Linked DNA regions of Homo sapiens. The protein of the gene in region 2 interacts with the protein of the main gene of each other region in a biochemical or structural test. Each region holds a gene or a part of one and is shown on either strand. Other genes may lie near its edges.

Region 1 (3,844 bases), on a different chromosome or scaffold from region 2:
CATCAAGGATGTGGACGTATCAGACTTCACTGACTTTGAAGGACTGGATTTGCTTCATTTAGGCAGCAATCAAATTACAGTGATTAAGGGAGACGTATTTCACAATCTCACTAATTTACGCAGGCTATATCTCAATGGCAATCAAATTGAGAGACTCTATCCTGAAATATTTTCAGGTCTTCATAACCTGCAGTATCTGTATTTGGAATACAATTTGATTAAGGAAATCTCAGCAGGCACCTTTGACTCCATGCCAAATTTGCAGTTACTGTACTTAAACAATAATCTCCTAAAGAGCCTGCCTGTTTACATCTTTTCCGGAGCACCCTTAGCTAGACTGAACCTGAGGAACAACAAATTCATGTACCTGCCTGTCAGCGGGGTCCTTGATCAGTTGCAATCTCTTACACAGATTGACTTGGAGGGCAACCCATGGGACTGTACTTGTGACTTGGTGGCATTAAAGCTGTGGGTGGAGAAGTTGAGCGACGGGATTGTTGTGAAAGAACTGAAATGTGAGACGCCTGTTCAGTTTGCCAACATTGAACTGAAGTCCCTCAAAAATGAAATCTTATGTCCCAAACTTTTAAATAAGCCGTCTGCACCATTCACAAGCCCTGCACCTGCCATTACATTCACCACTCCTTTGGGTCCCATTCGAAGTCCTCCTGGTGGGCCAGTGCCTCTGTCTATTTTAATCTTAAGTATCTTAGTGGTCCTCATTTTAACGGTGTTTGTTGCTTTTTGCCTTCTTGTTTTTGTCCTGCGACGCAACAAGAAACCCACAGTGAAGCACGAAGGCCTGGGGAATCCTGACTGTGGCTCCATGCAGCTGCAGCTAAGGAAGCATGACCACAAAACCAATAAAAAAGATGGACTGAGCACAGAAGCTTTCATTCCACAAACTATAGAACAGATGAGCAAGAGCCACACTTGTGGCTTGAAAGAGTCAGAAACTGGGTTCATGTTTTCAGATCCTCCAGGACAGAAAGTTGTTATGAGAAATGTGGCCGACAAGGAGAAAGATTTATTACATGTAGATACCAGGAAGAGACTGAGCACAATTGATGAGCTGGATGAATTATTCCCTAGCAGGGATTCCAATGTGTTTATTCAGAATTTTCTTGAAAGCAAAAAGGAGTATAATAGCATAGGTGTCAGTGGCTTTGAGATCCGCTATCCAGAAAAACAACCAGACAAAAAAAGTAAGAAGTCACTGATAGGTGGCAACCACAGTAAAATTGTTGTGGAACAAAGGAAGAGTGAGTATTTTGAACTGAAGGCGAAACTGCAGAGTTCCCCTGACTACCTACAGGTCCTTGAGGAGCAAACAGCTTTGAACAAGATCTAGGTCATGTAATCTTACTTCATACAGAGGACATTTATTTAATGATGAAAGTGCCTTTTGTTGACTTCTAACTTCCAAATACTATATTATCAATAGGCATGGAGGCAGGTGTTTCCAAGGGTGTCTCATTAACTGTAGCTGCAAAGATGTGTCAAGTAGAAGAGAATTTGTTTAATAGATTTTACTACATAAAACCTATACTGTGGAGTCCTGTGGGGATACTGCAAACTCTATTGCCAAAGGGATGCTTTATACACATAATACTGAATTTAACCTCAAGAGGCAAATCTGTTTTGTACCCCAATGCAAAACCTTCGTCTCTTTGTGCTTTGTAAAGCAAACTCAAGAAAACTGGTACACCTGTACCAGCTGGGTCCTTTATCTTGCACGTAGATTAAGTTGGTGGAACTGGAATAATCCTTTTGATTTGTGGCATTGTAACAACTCCGTGTAAAGATTATCTGAAAAGTAAAAAAAAAAAAAAAAAAAAAAAAAAAAAAAAAAAAGCATGCAAAGAGAGAACACTCGATAGTATTTGTAAATTGGTAACCTTTATGGCCTGCATCTTGAAACCGCTGGATTTATAATGTTAATTTGTGCAAATACTTGTTTAAAATATAACATACATTACATAACTATAAAATAAATTTGAACACTTTAAGCATTACCTGTCTATACATAAAAATCTAAAAGAAAAAATCAACGTGAGTTAGATAGCATTTGTGATGATCTGAAGAAATATGTGACGTTTATCAGAATTAAACATGGCTCAAATTAAACTAACACTAGAGTTTGTTCTCAGTTACGTGAAACACCCACAATCCTTCAAGGTTGTCCAAAATAAGCAGAGTGCTTACTGTGTGAGCGCACCCAAAGCTATTTTTGTAACATAATTCATATTTATGAAGTACTTTGTATACTAAATAGGAAAATATGTACTCCTTAATATGTATTTAATATGCCTGACTTGTTTTCCTGATCACAGTGAATTTATCAGTAAGTATAAATGTAGACAGAAAGAAATATACTAAACTGAAACAAGCTGGTGTGAACAGAAATATTCTGGACTTTGTGATCAGGTGTAACTTAAAAACAAAAAAAATTTAAAACAAACAGAAAAGAAAAAAATACAAAAGAACAGTCAATTCTGTGCTATTCTTGTGAATTTAGCGTATTATCTTCAGATTTGTTACCAATTGTGCATTCAAAAATAAGTTCCTTAGTTTTCTAGTATTGTGTCTGGGGCAGTTGTTATTTGCCATCGGTTGTCTTGCTTTTCAGGATTCTATGAGCTTAATTCAAATAGTTTTCGCTACAAGTATTTAAAAAATAATGAATAAGGTTAATAGTTATATCTTGTATGCATCAGTATCCTGTTCTTTCATCATTCAGACTACTATCAGATAATCTAGTAGAACTGTAAACATCATGGTAATCTTGGCTATGAAAGCCACACTGTAAAAATGCTTGCATTGGTTTCAGATGAGTTCACAGTCTGCAACTACAAATGATATGCCCCTGTGTTTGCTTTTGCTAAGATCTAAGTCAAAATTTGTTAAAGGAATAAAGTAACTGATAATGGGTGATGTCGGAACTTTTGTAGGAGCTCCCGATTAACAAAGTGATATTCAGAAACACATTGTCTTCTTGGCCTGCCTGCATATATATATATAGATATATAGATATATATAGATATACATATATATATATGTGTGTGTGTATATATATATGCGTGTGTATATATATGTGTGTGTATATATATACATATATGTATGTGTGTGTGTATACATATATATATAGTGTGTGTGTGTGCATGTGTGAGAGTGTGTGTCCTATCTCTTATAATTACCTTATGAATCAGTAAGATAACCAAGAAGGTAAACATAGCCATTCCTCATGATTGCAAGTGGCATATTTTTTCTGTTGCAGCTTCCAAAATGATACTATGTTTATAGTTGCAGTAGCTGTTCCTTTATTAATCACTAATTTCAGGGCTTTATGTGTTTGTTGCAAGACAAAAAAAAGAAGCTTGGCTTTCTTGGGTGTGTGTGTATGTGTGTGTGTGTCTGAGTGTGTGTATATATATATATGTGGGTATATATTCATACATATAGATAATTTGGAAATCTTTTTTAAATAGCAAAAACCGTCTCCATGTGTATGTGCTGGTGCTCTTAAAACTTTAGTGTGTAATTTTAATTTTTATGACATCTGTGAAAACTTTATATGAATATAAAATAATTCAAACAAATAATTGCTTTCTGATCTTGAAAGAAAAGACAAGATGTGTGCCCAACAGCTTTTTTCATCTACAATTTCATAAGGACTTTTGATATGCCATTACCATGCATGCACACATCCATGGATTAAAGGGCTCCTAATGTATACTGACAGGATAAAGATGCAAAGGCTTCAAAGAAAGTGTTTTAGTTTAGTCTGTCAATAAAGTATGGCTTGAAGGATCTTAAATAGACACTTATAGGAGGAATCAGAAAG
Region 2 (2,854 bases):
AAGAAGACTGAGTTCAGAGGGTTTTCAAGCTTGAAGAGGAGTCAAATTTTAAAATAAAAAGGGGAAAATGGACTTCAGGCTGGCAGGGAAGCTTGGGACAAGCTAGGTGAAATAATACAGGTAGCTAGAATCAAAAATGTTGACATAAAGGTGCCAGGCTCCTGGAACCCCAGTTTCTGCAAAGGAGTTCTGCAGCCAGCTAAATGACAGTTTTCTGGGCTCTCATGTTTGGCACCCAAGTGACAAAGAATAGCTTAAATTCCAGAATAAAACTCAAAGACTTTTTTCTTTTCTTCCAGAGCCTTCAAATTCACTGTGCTCTTAGGTTTGCCTTCTTCTGACATATACTGAAGGCAGCTAAAATGCAGTTTTCCGCATAAACAGCTCCTCGTTGTATATATGCACAGGTACCTGAAGGGTATGTCTGGGAGACAGCGCCTCGGACTCTAAATCTGCAGGTAGGAAAAAACAAAACAAACCAACAAAAAAACTTAGGTTTACTGCCACCTTGTTTCAGAAACTTAGCTTTTGAAACTTTTTGTCTTAAAGCCTCCAATCAGTAATAAATGTGGGAAGGAAAACTCAAGAAAATGTCTGAATGGTTAATGAGTAAATCTTTTTGTGAAAGAGGTAAGGAAGGAGACTTTGAGAAATTCCCCCAAGCTTCTCTCTGGCAAGAAGAGGACATTGGTGGGATGCAGGCAGTGACCTCACTAGCAGGTTCAGCAAAGAATAGGAAACTGACGAGAGAGGCATCAAAAAGAATGGGAAACTTACAAGTGGGGCATCAAAGGAGAACCGTCCTCCCAGAGCCATGGGTAGCTGGGGTTCCTCCGAGACAGCCCCATCCAGAATGGAAAACTGGAATAGGAAATTGCTTGCTGGATGAAGTCCTGTGGGGAGTAATGTTTCTGAGTTTGTGGAATCCACATGGTGGTTTTAGAATCTGAAAGTCAGTTAGTGTTGGATCCACAAAACTAAAGAACCAAAAGGTATCTTTGACATCCCCTTGACTGTTTTACGGAAACACTTACTGAAGGCTAGAGATACTACAGAGCCTGTCCGTCCAAGGTCATACACAAAATTGGTGATCAGACTAAGCTAAAAAAACAGACATTTTGGCTCTCAAACAAGAATTCCTCCAGTGACAGTTTAAACCAGATTAATTTCCCTATCAACCAATACTCCACCCCAACAAATATCCATGAACACTCACCAGATCAGCTGTGCTATTAATTTTCAGCAACTTGGCATCCAAAGACAAGCACTTCTCTTGGCTCTTTTCCCAGTTAAATGAGCCCGAGGAAAATAGGTAACAGTTTTCTCCATGCCAGATCCAGTCTTGCGGACAAGGAGCTGGGAAGGATAGTATATCTCATCAGTCAGTTATGTTTGTGTAAAAGCAGTACTGCAGTTCTTAAATCAATGATCCCCTTAGTTCTCTCACGTGCATACTATTTATTTTTGTTTTTGTTTTTGTTTTTGTATTTTTAGTAGAGATGGGGTTTCACCATGTAGGCCAAGCCTCCCAAAGTAGTGGGACTATAGTCGTGAGACACCGCGCCCTGCCCACACTACTTCTTAAGTAAAATTTTACCCAGGTTCTGCAAATACCTAAATAGCCTCAGAGTCCTTATTTCTTCATTTTTTGGGAAAAAAAAGAAAGAAAGAAAGCATACTGATTTTAGCAACCTAAATGTACTTCTCATTTAGCATTTTCACTTCCCCTGATGAAAAGCAAGTTAAGCTAGCATGTAATTTTAGAAACTGATCTATTTTTTAAAGTTGTGTTGGAAATAAAGAAAGTGAGGGTTGGGAGAACAGATATTTAATAGCCATTCTGCTATTTTTAAAAAGTAATGCTATGCATTTTAAAATTTCATATCTTTGAATAATGAATCTAGGCTTAAATACTATGTGTCTTGCTTTCAGACATGTGTTGTCTAATACAGTAGCCATATGTGATTCTTGAGTACTAGAAATATAGCTAGTTTGCATTTCTTAAAACAAATTATTTTAATTGAAACAGGGTCTCGCTATGTTGTCCAGGCTGGTCTTGAACTCCTGGCCTCAAGCAATCCTCCTGCCTCAGCCTCCCAAAGTGCTGGAGTTACAGGCATGACCCACCACACCCGGCTAGTTTGCATTAAGATGTACTATAAGTGTAAAACACACAAAAGATTTTGAAAACTTAATTTGAAAAAGAAAAAGAATGTAAAATAGTCCATTAAAAATTTTTATACTGATTAGTATTGAAATAATATTTCAAATATCTTGGGTTAAATAAAATGTGTTTCTAAAATTAATTTTATCTGCTTCTTTTTCATTTTTATGTGGTTACTAGAAATTTTAATGATATATATATATATATATATAAAAAACACATACTATATTTCTTTTGTACAGAGTTGTTCTAGGGAAAATAGTATATTAATATAAAGCGAGGATCTCAATTTAAACGAGATTTTAGAAAATAAGGAGATTTTCAGTAGCAAAATTCACAGGGAGTCCACCAAACCAAAAACAGGACTTAGACAATAGGCAAAATATACCAATGTCTACATGTTTATGGATGCTTTCAGGAACCCTCAAATCATCACTATCATCACCATCATCATCATCATCTCTCCCATCTCCTTAAGGGGAAACAAAGTACTCTGGTCTACACTACAACCAAAAGGTGAAAAATTAAAATCTTTGAGAAAGGCAGCATTTTAATTTCATTCTCACTGTGGCATAAAACCACTAAATAAATGTATAAGAGTAGGCTTTATCAGAGAGGAGAAAATAGGAGGGACTGAAAAACAGAAAAAAGTGAATGAGAAAGAGCATACAAAACACTAAGTTGATTTTT

What was found.
Region 1: the proteins of OLR1 (region 2) and SLITRK4 form a complex in vitro, tested with the Homo sapiens proteins (one large-scale study listed by IntAct).

What each region holds. Positions count from the first base shown.
Region 1 is NC_000023.11:143,626,102-143,629,945, reverse strand, and holds part of SLITRK4 (SLIT and NTRK-like protein 4 precursor), read left to right. Parts: coding exon 1-1,351; 3' UTR 1,352-3,844.
Region 2 is NC_000012.12:10,159,570-10,162,423, forward strand, and holds part of OLR1 (oxidized low-density lipoprotein receptor 1), read right to left. Parts: intron 1,357-2,854; coding exon 1,217-1,356; intron 947-1,216; coding exon of another isoform or gene 894-946; coding exon 778-893; intron 453-777; coding exon 311-452; 3' UTR 1-310. UniProt on the Homo sapiens protein: Receptor that mediates the recognition, internalization and degradation of oxidatively modified low density lipoprotein (oxLDL) by vascular endothelial cells.